4 linked regions of the Homo sapiens genome follow. The protein of the gene in region 2 purifies or fractionates together with the protein of the main gene of each other region. This does not show direct contact. Each region holds a gene or a part of one and is shown on either strand. Other genes may lie near its edges.

What was found. The genes of interacting proteins can lie anywhere in the genome.
Region 1: the proteins of PTPRS (region 2) and UGGT1 purify together in Homo sapiens (affinity purification with mass spectrometry, with the first as the bait; one large-scale study listed by BioGRID). This does not show direct contact.
Region 3: the proteins of PTPRS (region 2) and LRRTM4 purify together in Homo sapiens (affinity purification with western blotting, with the first as the bait; one study listed by BioGRID). This does not show direct contact.
Region 4: the proteins of PTPRS (region 2) and SCN2B purify together in Homo sapiens (co-immunoprecipitation; one large-scale study listed by IntAct). This does not show direct contact.

What each region holds. Positions count from the first base shown.
Region 1 is NC_000002.12:128,192,200-128,196,177, forward strand, and holds the end of UGGT1 (UDP-glucose:glycoprotein glucosyltransferase 1 precursor), read left to right. Parts: 3' UTR 1-3,478; downstream 3,479-3,978. UniProt on the Homo sapiens protein: Recognizes glycoproteins with minor folding defects. Reglucosylates single N-glycans near the misfolded part of the protein, thus providing quality control for protein folding in the endoplasmic reticulum.
Region 2 is NC_000019.10:5,218,813-5,222,312, reverse strand, and holds part of PTPRS (receptor-type tyrosine-protein phosphatase S isoform 1 precursor), read left to right. Parts: intron 1-92; coding exon 93-190; intron 191-1,059; coding exon 1,060-1,313; intron 1,314-1,959; coding exon 1,960-2,053; intron 2,054-2,158; coding exon 2,159-2,374; intron 2,375-2,845; coding exon 2,846-3,003; intron 3,004-3,500. UniProt on the Homo sapiens protein: Cell surface receptor that binds to glycosaminoglycans, including chondroitin sulfate proteoglycans and heparan sulfate proteoglycan.
Region 3 is NC_000002.12:76,749,377-76,752,876, reverse strand, and holds part of LRRTM4 (leucine-rich repeat transmembrane neuronal protein 4 isoform a precursor), read left to right. Parts: intron 1-3,500. UniProt on the Homo sapiens protein: May play a role in the development and maintenance of the vertebrate nervous system. Exhibits strong synaptogenic activity, restricted to excitatory presynaptic differentiation.
Region 4 is NC_000011.10:118,173,840-118,177,846, reverse strand, and holds the start of SCN2B (sodium channel regulatory subunit beta-2 precursor), read left to right. Parts: upstream 1-1,207; 5' UTR 1,208-1,415; coding exon 1,416-1,485; intron 1,486-4,007. UniProt on the Homo sapiens protein: Regulatory subunit of multiple voltage-gated sodium (Nav) channels directly mediating the depolarization of excitable membranes.

The DNA.
Region 1 (3,978 bases), on a different chromosome or scaffold from region 2:
TTGACTCTGAATAATGCAAAACCCAGCTTGCTTCCAGAATGGCCTAGGACCCTCCTCCTCCTGCCAGTTTTTTTTTTTTTTTTTGGTTCATGTGGCATAATCATCTTTCAAAATTAACCAAATGCCCCAGAAAATGATGTTACCACTAAAATATTTTCTCCAAGAAGGCATACTGTAACAGAAAAGATAGGTAAGATATTTTTTTCCCAAGAAGTAAGAATTGATTGTGCTGAATGTTCAAACTCTGGAAACTGTTCACAGTATGTTGTTCTTAGCTGTTATTTATATAAAGTGAATTATTTTCTCTCTCAATCATGCCATAGTGGAGACTTTTGTTTGTGAGTAAGTGACAGAGTAATATGAAATAATGTGATATGTCAGAGTGACATGCAGCATCCTGAGCCTGTTTTTATGTTCTGTGTACAGTGGCATTTGATTGAGATCAAAGCCTGTCACAGCCTGCTGCTGGGGGTGTGGGGATATGCCAGAGTCCTGTGTTTGGTTTTAGAAGTTTACTGAATGTTTCCCACATGGAGAATAATGGATGGCATGTTAGTTTCTTTAAGAGTGGTAAAGTTGTACATCTGTCATTGTTGCATTTCGAATTGAACACATAGATGCTTGCCTGTCTGCTTGGGTGAATGCCTCTTGGGAGAGCGAAGATTACGTGCATGATGTATGTTAAGAAACAGTTTCCGGTCAGGCACAGTGGCTTACACCTGTAATCCCAGCACTTTGGGAAGCCGAGGCGGGCGGATTATGAGGTCAAGAGATAGAGACCATCCTGGCCAACACGGTGAAACCCCGTCTCTACTAAAAATACAAAAATTAGCTGGGCATGGTGGCACACACCTGTAGTCCCAGCTACTCGGGAGGCTGAGGCAGGAGAATCACTTGAACCCGGGAGGTGGAGGTTGCAGTGAGCCGAGATCATGCCACTGCACTCCAGCCTGGCAATAGAGCGAGACTCCGTCTCAAAAAAAAAAAAAAAAAAAAAAAAAAAATTAAAACAGTTTCCATAAATGGAGCTTAATTTGCTCTGCTGTCCTTAAGCCCTCGTGGGTTTTTTTTTAAGAGAGTCTCATTCTGTCACCCAGGCTGGAGTGCAGTGGTGCGATCTTGGCTCACTTCAACCTCTGCCTCCCAAGTTCAAACAATTCTCCTGCCTCAGCCTCCTGAGTAGCTGGGATTACAGGCGCCTGCCACCATGCCTGGTTAATTTTTGTATTTTTAGTAGAGATGGGGTTTTACCATGTTGGTTGGCCAGGCTGATCTCAAACTCCTGACCTCAGGTGGTGATCTGCCCACCTCGGCCTCCCAAAGTGCTGGGATTACAGGCGTGAGCCACTATGTCCGGTCAAGCCCTCGTGTTCTGAACCTTGTCAAGGCTCTGCCTGAATGAGTTTTCATCTGATTGTGGGGACCAAGTCCCTGAGTAGAGGGCCAAGAGCTAGGGACAGGGGGAAGAGACTGGCCCAGGTGGTAGGGAGGAAAGAACTCCCAGAGTTTCCTTTAGCCAGGAAACCTGCTCTACTGACCCCGTGACTTGGACAGTCAGACATCACCCTGAGAGTGACAAGTGTAAAATGACTCCCTTCCTCCCCCGCCCTCCGGAAGTATATTTAGATACTTGAAAGCAGTCCTTTTCTAAAATGGCCTTACCTATGTGGCCTGAACGATTAAAAGAAAGAACTCAGAGTTACAAGGGAAAAAGAAAAAGAGTTACAAGGGAATTGTAGTCTTTTTCTGAATAGAATATTAGTACTGTGGTATTGCATTTCATGGGAATGGAAATGTATTGGTAAAGCTACCTGATGGAAGCTTTCTCTTGGTAACAAAAATGGAGGGTGTATTATGTGCAGTTATTTAAATATATGTATTCCATTGTTGCGTGGTTTTTTTCCCCCCTCAAGACAGAGATTTGCTCTTGTTGCCCAGGGTGGAGTACAATGGTGTGACCTTGGCTCACTGCAACCTCTGCCTCCTGGGTTCAGGTGATTCTCCTGCCTCAGCCTTCCGAGTAGCTGGGATTACAGGTGTGCGCCACCACACCCGGCTAATTTTTGCTTTTTTTTTTTTTGAGACAGAATCTCGCTCTGTTGCTCAGGCTGGAGTGGAGTGCAGTGGCACAATCTCAGCTCACTGCAGCCTCTGCCTCCCGGGTTCAAGAGATTCTCCTGACTCAACCTCCTGAGTAGCTGGGATTACAGGTGCCTGCCACTATGCCTAGCTAATTTTTGTATTTTTAGTAGAGACGGGGTTTTGCCATGTTGGCCAGGGTGGTCTCGAACTCCTGACCTCAAGTGATCCACCCGCATCGGCCCCCCAAAGTGCTGGGATTATAGGCGTGAACCACCGCGCCTGTCCCATTGTTGTGTAATTTTAATAATTAGTTTTTTAAGTACTTGATTTTATGGGCACATTTTTGTGGGATGATTGGAGTTAATCAAATAAAGCTTGTCATGTGTGTAGTTTGGTAAGATAACTTCTTTAAATTCATGTTTTCTCTGCCTTGAGGTAGTGAGGGAAAGATCTTAATCAGTATTTTGGTAATTAACTGATTGAATTCAAGCAAATGAGACATCATGAACTTCAGTGGTTATTGATATTTCAGGGTATATACCTGAAATGCCTAGAGGATACAGATTTCTCATTTCATTCTTTGGTCTTTCATTTCTCTATATACAGAAATGAAATGACACTTCTGGGAGGCAGTAGAAGCAGGAAGTCAATGAATTGAGTAGAGGGTCCCATTCCCTCAGGCTGTCATTGATCAGTGACAATTTATAAAAACAAACTGCAAAGTCTGTGGCAAGTGGCTGCCTGCTTCCTAGAAGGAGCCCATGAAGGTTAAACTCTGTGGTCGGTATTTGCAAGCGCCGGGCGTGGTGGCTCACGCCTGTAATCCTAGCACCTTGGGAGGCCAAGGCAGGCGGATCACCCGAGGTCAGGAGTTTGAGGATTTGCAAGCAAAAGGTCCTCTCCTGAGTCTTTCCCAGATACCCAGCAGTGCAGAGGCTAGCTGTGGAAGGTTGCAGTGGGACAGGAATGTATTGTATGCCTTGCCTTACTTGTCACCATTGAGATTTCCAGAGAAATGGGCATAACGTCTCTTAACAACAACAGCAGAAAGCAAAATACATTAACTTAAGGTTGACAACAAAAGATTATCAAGTACCATGTTTTCCAACCAACCAGTTATTCGTGGTAATAATAAAATAAAGGTGGGAAAATGTTATAATTTTTAAGGAAACTGTGTACTTTAAAAATCTTCTTTATGAATATCCAATGTTACTGTAATCCTGCTCCATTAAATGCAGCATTGTTGTCAGGTGCTGCCTCTTGCTTGGGAACAGCATTGGGCTTTTAAATGTCTGCAGAATCTCTGCGTTCGAAGGGAATTGAGAATGAACTTCCTGGTACTGTAATGAAAATAAGGTCTGCTCAACACAGTAAACGTTTCCTCTCTTCTTTAAAACTGCGCAGTCATTTGGCCTTTGTGTTTAGGAAGGGCAGATTGATAGAGCACAAAGTCCAACCCCTTCATCTAGCAGAAGCTGCAAACCCAGACAGAGGAACGAGGGCTTTACCTGAGTCTTGTCTGCTGCTGGGGCTGGCTTCGGGTTGCATCCAGTTCTTTGGATTCTGAGGATCCAAAGCACCCAGGTCTCCTCCAGGTCCTCAACCTCTGGGAGCTGCCCCAGGCAGAACTTGGCAGGCAGGCATAACAGGTGGGGTGGGAGGGGGAACCTCAAGGCAAGAAGGTGTCATGAGACCCCTGGGCCGGCAGAGTTCCTTAGGAGGGTGGCATGGACTTTGCATTTTGCCAGTTCTCTGAGCTCCTACTCCGGGGTGGATATGCATTGAGGATGTAGTCTCTGTGTGATGATGGGGAGGGCGGGGAGGGGCACCTGGTGCCTGTGAAGGCGCAAGAGAGGGCCCTAAGGTGCAGGACCAGGACTAAGCTGCTACAAGGAG
Region 2 (3,500 bases):
CGCCCCACCCCACCCCGCTTCACGCCACCCAGTGCCAGGCACTCATGGGGCCTCTCTTCTGCTCTCTCCCTGCTCGGCCGCCTCCCCGGCAGTCTCGCCCAAGAACTTCAAGGTGAAAATGATCATGAAGACATCAGTTCTGCTCAGCTGGGAGTTCCCTGACAACTACAACTCACCCACACCCTACAAGGTGCGACTGCCCAGCCAGCAGGCAGGCAGGCAGGCAGGGTCAGGGGTTGTAGTTCAGCAGGGCTTAAGGCTCAGTTTGGAGTTGGTGTGAAGTGAGGGATCAGGGCTCAGTCAGAGATGGGTCTCAGCTAGGATTGAGGCTTAGTCAATACTGGGAATCAGACTTGGGGCCCAGCCTAGGATTGGAGATCAGCTGGAACTGAGGTTCAGTCAATATTGGGGATCAATGTTGGGCTCAGCCTTGGATTGTGGCTTAGCTGGGATTGAGGTTCAGTCTGGGATTAAGATTTAGTCCATATTGGAAATCAGAGTTGGGGCTCAGCCTTAGATCATGGCTTAGCTGGGACTGAGGCATAATCAGGATTGGGACTCAGAGTTGGTACTTAGCCTGAGGTCAGAGTTTAGTCTGGAGTTGGTGCCAAGTCTGGGATCGGGGGTCAGCCTGGGATTGAGGTTCAGTCTGAGATCAGGAATCAGTCTAGGATCAGGTCTCAGAGGTGGGTTTCCACCTAGGGTCAGCGCTCAGCTGGAATTCAGGATCAGTCTGGGTTCAGGGTTCAGTGGGATTGGGGCTCAGTCGGGACTGGGAATTCAGCATGGGATCAGGGCTCAGTCAAAGTGGGCTTCTACCTAGGATCAGGACTCAGCTGGAATTTAGGCACAGTCTGGGGTCAGGGTTCAGTGAGGTTGGGGCTCAGTCAGAGTTGGGGACTCAGCCTGGGATCAGGGATCAGTCAGTGTTAGATTTCTGCCTAGGGCAGGATTCAGTGGGATCAGGGCTCAGTCAGGGTGGGGGACTCATCCTGGAGCTGGGGCTCAGTCCATGGGCATGAGCCCACCAGGCCCTGCTGAGCTAGCCCTGGTCCGCAGATCCAGTACAATGGGCTCACACTGGATGTGGATGGCCGTACCACCAAGAAGCTCATCACGCACCTCAAGCCCCACACCTTCTACAACTTTGTGCTGACCAATCGCGGCAGCAGCCTGGGCGGCCTCCAGCAGACGGTCACCGCCTGGACTGCCTTCAACCTGCTCAACGGCAAGCCCAGCGTCGCCCCCAAGCCTGATGCTGACGGCTTCATCATGGTGTATCTTCCTGACGGCCAGAGCCCCGTGCCTGTCCAGTATGCTCACCCCCATGCTCCGGGTTCCTTGTCACCCCCATCAGCCTACTATATGGCTGGGGCAAGCCACGTGCCCTCTCTGTGCCTCAATTTCCTTGCCTATGAAACACAGACCCTATCAGCCCTAGTTCATGGGGTCATCCAAGATTCAATGCTTCTCATGGGTCATTGTCACTAAATGTGTCCTGTGTCTGCTCTTCTAGCATTTCCTGATACCCCATATGCCTGACCCTCCACTGGGTATTACTAGGGCCCCTGAAAGGATTTGGTTCTGGGCTTCCCAACTAGTGGGGAGGCAAAGCTGAGAGTCCCCAGTGGGGAGAGGAGCACTCTGCCTCAGAGGCAGAGAAGATTTAAGGGCTACAAGGTTATGTGGGCATTGAAGCTGGAGCTTTGAAGGATGTATAGGAGTTTAACAATGAGCATTACATGAAGTAAGCCTTCTACGCAGAAAGTACAGCATCATCCAAGGCCTGGAGGCCTGAGTCAGCAACTGTGGCGTTTGTGGATGGGGCATAGGGGAATAGGCTCATTGTATGAACAGAAGGGAAGACTCAGAGAAACGGCTTCCCCCGTTTGCCCCCATGAAGCATCCCTTGGTCATCCCTATCGACAGCCCCTCTGACTCTTTCCCATCTCCCTACAGGAGCTATTTCATTGTGATGGTGCCACTGCGCAAGTCTCGTGGAGGCCAATTCCTGACCCCGCTGGGTAGCCCAGAGGACATGGATCTGGAAGAGGTGAGGGCCTGGGGCCCAACCCGCAGGGCCCAGATGCATTCCAGTTTTCACGTGCTCTGTTGCTCCCAGCTGAGCTCTGAGCCACCCATGACTCTGTTCCCGCAGCTCATCCAGGACATCTCACGGCTACAGAGGCGCAGCCTGCGGCACTCGCGTCAGCTGGAGGTGCCCCGGCCCTATATTGCAGCTCGCTTCTCTGTGCTGCCACCCACGTTCCATCCCGGCGACCAGAAGCAGTATGGCGGCTTCGATAACCGGGGCCTGGAGCCCGGCCACCGCTATGTCCTCTTCGTGCTTGCCGTGCTTCAGAAGAGCGAGCCTGTAAGTCCTGAATGGTGTCCGCCCACATCCAGACACACCTCTGAATGAGGCAGACCCCATTCCCCAGGGCCCTGACCTCTGTGGTCAGTCACAGGCAGCTCCCTGTGGTCAGAGCTGGGCAGAGGGGAAGACTTGGGAGCGGAGGGATCCTGAAACGAAGGTTTCTTAGAGGAAGAGACCTTGGAGCTGGGGCGTTGAGGGGTGAGTAGGAGTTCAACAAAGAAAAAGCATCCCAGGATTTGCATGTGCAAAGGTCTGGAGGTACAGAAAGGAGAGTGGCTGGAGCAGAGAAGGGAATGGGGAGAGCAAAGATTGGCAGGGACCAGGTCACATAGGCCACCAGGGTCAAGGTTCTAGGAATATAGGAGGATCTAGAGCGGGGGAGAAACGTAGGTTCATGTTTGAGAAAGACCCATCTGGCCACTACAAGGAGGGTGGACACTGATGGAGACCCCCCTCCTTTCCCTGCAGACCTTTGCAGCCAGTCCCTTCTCAGACCCCTTCCAGCTGGATAACCCGGACCCCCAGCCCATCGTGGATGGCGAGGAGGGGCTTATCTGGGTGATCGGGCCTGTGCTGGCCGTGGTCTTCATAATCTGCATTGTCATTGCTATCCTGCTCTACAAGAAGTAAGCCCCATGTCCTCCCCGACTTGACTTGACAGCAGGGAGGGCTTCCTGGAAAAGGAGGGAGGAGTTGTCTCAGAGAATCATCACTAAAGGTCTCTGTTGTACACATGGGGAAACCGAAGTTCAGAGAGGTTAAGCCACTTGATCAAGGTCACACAGCATGGGAATGGCAGAGCTAGGGCTCAAAGCAGGCCAGTGGCTTGGCTTCTCCTCTTAACCCCTATCTTCAACTCAGCAAGATTTGGGGTAGAGGCTGCCTGTGTCCAGTTCAATGAGGATAGCAATTGTAGTGGCCCCATGGGGCACATCCCAGGGCTGAGATAAGCCTCCTTGTGGTGTCGATAGGCAGGGGGACAAACAGGAAATATGAGCACCATTTTCCAGAGGAGACCAAAGCTCACAGAGGTTAAGGAAGGCACTGAGAGTCACAGAACAAGCCCTTGATGGCCGGCACACCCTCACCTTTCTTCTTTTTTTCCCCCTTCTCACCTGTGTCT
Region 3 (3,500 bases), on a different chromosome or scaffold from region 2:
GCTGATGGAACACAGAACCATTTGGAGAGGCTCTGAGAACACATTTACAAAAATACCAAATCTGAATTAAGCAAAACTTAAGAATACTTTGTTTTGACTACTGGAAAGGAAACAATGACACACACAGGGACCCAGGTGGTTAATGTACTGTACACTATTACTGTAAAGTACAAGACCTCAGCCTCTGAGCTCCTCAGAAACCACGAATTCAGTTGATTACATAGTGCCCTATAGAATACACTTGAAGAGTAAAAGAGCAAATATTTCAGATACTCTTTCAAAGCTTGCCAATGCACTTGGCTTTTGAATTCTTGCTATTGGTCTGCTGTGCAGGAGGGAACTTTACAATGGTTTTTACTCTCCAAGAGGTTTTAAGCCTGCCTCAATTACAATAGAGAAAATGACATGAGCCCTCTTTTAAGTGCTGTAAAAAAATAAACTGCAATTGTAATAGCAAAACAAATTTTCTCAGTTCAGAAATGGTGTAATATGTAAACGTAAAGCTTTGCAGTTAATGCAGGTCCCTTGACTTTTAAGTCAACTTAATTCAAAGACAAATACCATGATTTCTTAGCTATGAAATTGTTATCTCCCACTATAGTTTAAATTAAAAGGCTTTAAGTAAACATTGCAAATTCAACAATGTTCACTTATGAGCTACTTATTTTCATCTGTAGATTCACCTGGTTGTGCAAAAAGATCCCTAAGGCCCTGATTTCATCTCACATTCACTGTTCTATACATGTTTGTGAATTCAAGTATCTCTTCTTTGTGAAGACCATTGACAGAGCTACAAGACGGTGAACAAAACCACAACCCATGTTTAATGTTCATGTTGATGTCTTTTAGTAATTTGGCTAATTTGTAGAAAATTAGTCATGTATTTAAGTTAAAGTGTAGAATAAATGTTCTATAATCAGTGAATGTTGTTTCCATTTGGAAATAATTTGCTGAATTTTTATGTGATTTTCAAATTATGTTACTTCACCAGTTAACAAGAGAGTACGAATGGGCTGTATTACTCTTAGGAAATCCCTTTTGAAAGCATTCTTCCCACTGAAATGTCAGCACAAAGTGTCTTCTTACATTTCGATGCTTTCTTGGAGTATAAGTGACCCATGGCACCAATCCCACATATCTCCAGGAATCTGACACCCTGAAAAATCCTATGAGGTTTCCTAAAATAGGTCCCGCTGGCAAACATTTTACGTCTGAACCTGTACTGATTGAAAGAGGTCTCATTGAATAAGATATAATAAAAACAAAACAAAACAATAGACTTGGGGTGAGGGAGATTAGAGCTAACTTTTATTTAGTATCTAGTAATTCGGCCATGTCACTTTACAGTCTGTTCCTAGCTCTCTCTGTCAGCACAGAAATTAAGGTCCAATTTTTAAAATATCACTATCAATCACAACTCTGACCTAGTATGTATTTTTTGCAATTCTCCTTTTTACAGAATAGAATGGCATATTCAAGATTTTATCAATAGCTTGTTTGATGAGAAATACTCTTGTTACTATTTTGTAAAAGACTTCCTGAAAATAGTTTTTACCTTCCTTTAGAGGTAAAACAACAACAAATCAGAAACAAAGCATTACATATTGATTTAATTTTCCAACTCATTGTGAAAAACAGTGAATTATACAAGTTAATAGAAGTGAATAGTAAAAACAGAATGGGAATTTATCTAGGCTATTGCCAGTCACTGTAAAATAAATTGTAATCTGAATATGTGCTTTGATCAAGTATTTTTTCAAAAACATGGTCTACCATGATTCCCAATTTTCAAACTTCAAAATGTGTCCCAGTACACACATTGATATGCACATACATAAATTTAAAACAAAACTCTTATGAACAACTTATCTTTATACTCTGATACTTTCTATTCTAGCTAATTTAATTTTTTAAATGCTTATTTGGATTCACAAAATTGATTTCATAACCTACTAATGAGTTGCATTTGCGCATAGAAAACATTGCTTTAATCTAAGACTTAAAAACTGTGAGGAGGTGACTTTCCCCTTAATAAGCAGAGAGGTGTTAAAAACATAATTCTCATAAGAATAGAGAGGGAATTTGTGTCAACGTTGTATTAATCACATTAATAAAAATACCAGCAAGAAAATACTAGAGCTAGTTTTAAGAGCATTTGAGGAACTTGCATAGTAAACAGACGAATGACATCTAAAAATAAGTTTGCTGAATTATATTTAAGACTGGTTAACTCCCTGCAGTATAGGGAGCCATAAGACCTCTGGTGGTTAACTCTAGTAAATTATAAAATCAAAACAACTTAATTTCTGCACTTTTAGATACAGAAGGATTCAAACATAGTCCAGTCGGGAGACTGACAAAATATCAGTTATTTTAAGAAAGAAATTTTAGAAAGAATGCTAACTGGATATAGAGTTATTAACCAAGTTTATGCAAAGGCTAAGATATTGCTGTGGTATCACAGAAACAGCAATGTTAGGAAGTAGCTACCACCCCTACAACTTACAGGGCTGAGGGAACGAAAGGAAGATCATTAAGACTTAAAAGCTTGGAGGAGAAGCTTTGTGGTGATGAACCTCAAATCTCTCTGGTGCTAGTGCTGGTGTCTCTGAGGAGGGCTTGATGAGATCAAATGTTGGATATACTGCAAATGTTGGAAATACTACAAAGAGGCAGCACCTGCTGCTGTGGGAATAAATTGATATAGCCAGAATGAAGACATGCCATTAGGATAAATTCCTGGAGGAGGAAGAAACAAAACAGGAAACCAACAATGGGAGCAATTCCCTCTCCCTGCCAAGTCTTGCCATCTCCCTCCATTGGCAAAGCCTAACAGGAAACCACAAATAAAACAGATATGTGGTTTGCAAAGTCCAAACCTCAGCATCCTAAAAGCAACCACAGAAGGGAACTTAGAGCTGAGAGTCAATAGTTTAAAACCTGCCACAACATCTAACCTTACAGGGCAATGGAGCCTTTGCACTTTTCTCATCTGTGGATTGTTCATCAAGAGTGTCAAATTGTAACTCGCAAGTATGAGAAATATTCTAGCATGAGAACAACAAGTAAGCAAGTATCATTTGCTTTTTCCTAAATTTGGAATATATTTATCTTTATCAGAAATTTATGGCTTAATTAAAAGCTCCACCAAAATTCAAAATTATTATAACTGATATTTTCTGCTTTTTATATTAAATGAATTTCTGCAGACCATTATTCAGGTCTGTTACGCTAACATTAGACACATATTTGGCTTGTTACCTTGAAAACCAATAATAACATTACATATTATGAACATAAAGATGTGCCTTCTCCCATGATTCCAGAGTTCTTTGGTCCAGTATTGATATGTGATAGAGTGTTAGAATTAATCTATAGGAAATTGTGATTATTTTTTAAAACTAAATAAAAGTTACACATGATGATAGTAAAGATTTCAATTGTGTATAGGTATCAAATAAAAAGTTACATATATGTTTATATATATAAATAAAAGTGTA
Region 4 (4,007 bases), on a different chromosome or scaffold from region 2:
AAAACAACTAGTCTCGTGTCACCTATTCTCCCATCTCTTTTTTTCGTTGAATATATATATATGTATTTTTGAGATGGAGTCTCACTCTGTGGCCCAGGCTGGGATGTAGCGGAGTGATCTCGACTCACTGCAACCTCCGCCTCCCAGGTTCAAGCAATTCTCCTGCCTCAGTCCCCCCAAGTAGCTGGGATTACAGGCACACGCCACCACACCCGGCTAACTTTTGTATTTTTAGTAGAGACAGGGTTTCACCATGTTAGGGAGGCTGGTCTCGAACTCCTGACCTCAGGTGATCTGCCTGCCTCGGCCTCCCAAAGTGCTGGGATTACAGGTGTGAGCCACCCCGCCCGGCCACCCATGTGTGTCTTTAACAGATAGAGATGTTAAAGGACAAAACCACATTTTATCAGACCCAACAAAATTAAGAATGATTCATTAATACAATCTACTATGTAGTTCATATTTAACTTTTCCCAATTGTCTCAAAAACTTTTCTTTCCTGTTGATTTGTTTGAATCAGGTTTATCCAAAGGCCTGTGTTACATTCAATTGTAAGATCTCTTGGGTATTTTTCTATCAGCCTGCTTCAACATGTTCTGTTTTCAGAGGAAACGCTAGAATGAGGAAAGCATTACCCCTTGAAAGTCTCTCCAACTCACTTTCCTGAACCCTTTTCAATAACACAAAAACAAGCATCTCCTTTTTTTTTTTAGGTTTTTTTTTTTTTTTTCCCTCTGGAGGCAGGGCCCAGGCTGGAGTGCGGTGCAGTAGCTGGGACAAGAGGCATGCGACATTATGCCTGGCTAAATTTTGTATTTTTAGTAGAGATGGGTTTTGCCATGTTGCCCAGGCTGGTCTTGAACTCCTGGACTCAAGCAATCCATCCGGCCTCCCAAAGTGCTGGAATTACAGGTGTGAGCCACTGCGTCAGCCTGGGGGTGTTTTTAAATGATAAAAGGTGTTTCCCTTTCCAGAATCTTTAAAATAAATGGATTCCTCTAATAGCTTTCAAAATCCAACAATCATCCCAGTGAAGTCAAAAAGCAGGGTTTGTATTATTTCTTGTTTTAGAGGGTAAAAATTTCTGGGATTTTGTTCTTTTCAAAATGACTTTTTTATGCCCTCCCACCTGCTTTTTGAAATCCACCAACCACAATATTTACCCCATCCCCCTTTTCTCTCCCCCCCATCTCTCTCTCTCTCCTTTACACACTCCCTCTCTCTCTCTTTTTAGCAGCAACATACAAGCCGGCCATATTAGAGAGATGGAAATAAAGCTTCCTTAATGTTGTATATGTCTTTGAAGTACATCCGTGCATTTTTTTTTAGCATCCAACCATTCCTCCCTTGTAGTTCTCGCCCCCTCAAATCACCCTCTCCCGTAGCCCACCCGACTAACATCTCAGTCTCTGAAAATGCACAGAGATGCCTGGCTACCTCGCCCTGCCTTCAGCCTCACGGGGCTCAGTCTCTTTTTCTCTTTGGGTAAGTTAGACACATCTGCATGCTCCCGAGGGTTCAGAAGTGTAGCCGCAATGTGAAGAGGATGGGGGCAGGGGATAGGAAAGAAGACATTGCTAGCGCTTTCCCTCTGTGTCCTTGGGAGGGGAGGTGCTGGGGACTGGAAGGGACGTTGCTGGGGAGTGCAGAACCCTGGGACTACTTAGTCACAGAAATGTTGGGTCAGGGGATCTGAGTGTTGCTGGGGGCTGACAATTGTCAAGGGAGGTGAATCTTCTCTGGATTTCCCCTAAGTGGACCTACGTGGCGGTGGGGCAGAGAGTGGATTGACCTGCAGTCTCTTCAGGGATTATTTTTTGGAGTTGCTGCAAATGCGGGGTCCTGGGACTTAATGCTCCCTTAAGGGGCTTCTTTTCAGAAGCTTGATCCTGGTGGATTTAGGGTATTAGGAGAGTGTGCAGGGGAGCTGGTGGCAGAAAGTTGAGTCTGGGTCTGGCTTCTTGGCACTCGGTCTCACTGATCTGTTGGAACGTGTGTGGGAGTAGGTGGGAAGCGGGCTTGGGGAATGATGTCTGGGTTGGGAGGAGACCTGCTGAGGCACGCACTGATGGAGAAGGCACCTTTGGCTTGGGCCGGATGGAATGGAGGAAGGGCCAGGTGTAGAGATTCAGGAAAAAAATGGAACCCACAGGCTGAGCGAGGTTGCAGCCCTTTAAATCCAGCCTCAGAACTGCCCAGCCCAGTCTTGCAGACTGTCCTGTCAAGTGTTTGTATTTGACCACTCAGAGACTTCCTGGTGGGGAAGTGGGCTAGAAAGTTATTTGCAAGCCTGCTTTGTAGAGTTTCATTCTTGCTCCTAAACTTACTTATTGCTGGAGCAGCAACTGAGAGTCAAGTCCAAGGACTGTTGATGGAACTATTCCCCACCACAAAGGCTCTCTCTCTTTCTGTGGTGTGATGTGCTGGGTTTGGAGTAGGAGTGCTAAACACAGACAGTGCAGAGGCCCTGCCAGCCTGCTTTGCTGAGTTACTTGGCATATTAACATCAGAGCAGGAATGCTATGGAATCTCTGGCAGGACCTGGGTTTCAAGCCACCTTTGTCATTTACGTAATGATCACAGGCAAGTTACTCAACCCCTCTGAGCTTCAGTTCCCTCCCGGGTAAACTAAAGAATGCCTACTGCCTGACGTGTTTGTGATTTGGTGCATGGCAGGAACTCAACGATGGCTAACATAAGAATGCTTTTCGTGAGCCCAGGCACTGTGTATCTTGTTTAGCCCTCACAGCAATCGGAGGTAGATTCTATTATACTCAGGTTACAGGGAGGAAACAGATGACTATGGTAACGGGAGCTGAAATTTGAACTCCCTGTGTCTGACTTCAGCACATTCTCTTAAACGTTGGATTCCACTCCCCAATGTTCAAGAAATGGCACTGCTATATTAACAGTACCTAATTGATCAGAGTCTCAGGACAGGCTGAAAGAAGGGGAGTTGGGTGAGTGGCCTGTTGTAAGGAGGCCCAGCTGGAGGACAGGACCCTTTCCTCAGGAGTTAGGAAGCACTTCGTGCAGGAGAGAAGCCGCCTGGTGAGAGCCATGGCTAAGTAAAGATAGAAAGGGGGCTCAGTGACCAGGACCCAGAGCTCTGGGCTAGGGTGAGGAAGAGGGAGTCTGCGATGAAGAGGTCTGAGTGTTTGGGGTGGGGAGATGGTAGTGGGAGGAAGCTAAAGCTTCTGCAAAGCTGAGTGGGAGAGGATGCAGGAATGGGGACCTTGAACTTGAACTTGATTGGTGCTGTAATGAGGCATGTCCCTGGCACTCCAATGCTGAGGGCCGAGTTGACAGTGGAACTTTGGTGGTGTTGCAGTAGCATCGATCCCCAGGATGGAGGATGCCACAAGTGACGAGGGAGGGGACTCTGTCGGGGCTGGGCTTGTGGGGATGACTATGGAGGTGGCAAAGAGAAAGGGCAGGTGGGCAACCAGCTCTACCCACGGCAGAAGCATATGAGGCTAGTTTTAGCCAGAAACAATTCAAATGACTGGGCTTCCCTCAAGTTTTTCTTGAGACCGTTGACTCCACAGTCACTGGCCTGCTTACCAATGTATGGATTATGTTAGTGGAGGCATAGAAAGTGGAGTCTGGGCTGAGCATGGTGGCTCACGCCTGTATCCCAGTGCTTTGGGAGGCCGAGGTGGGAGGATCGCTTGAGGCCAGGAATTGGAGACCAGCCTGGACAACATAGCAAGACCCTGTCTCTACAAAAAAAAAAAAAAAAAAAAAAAAAAAAAGAAAAGAAAAATAAGCCAGGCATGGTGGCATGTACCTGTAGTCCTAACTGTTCCAGGAGGCTGAAGAAGGAGTATCAAGAGTTCCAGGCTGCAGTGAGCCGTGATCATGCCTCTGCACTCCAGCGTGGGCAGCAGAACCAAACCCTGTCTCTTAAAAAAAGAAAGAAAGAAAGAAAGAAAGAAAGTGAAGTCTAGTCCTCACTCTAGCCCACTGCACATATCTGCTGCTTGTGGTGGTGGGGACCCAGACAT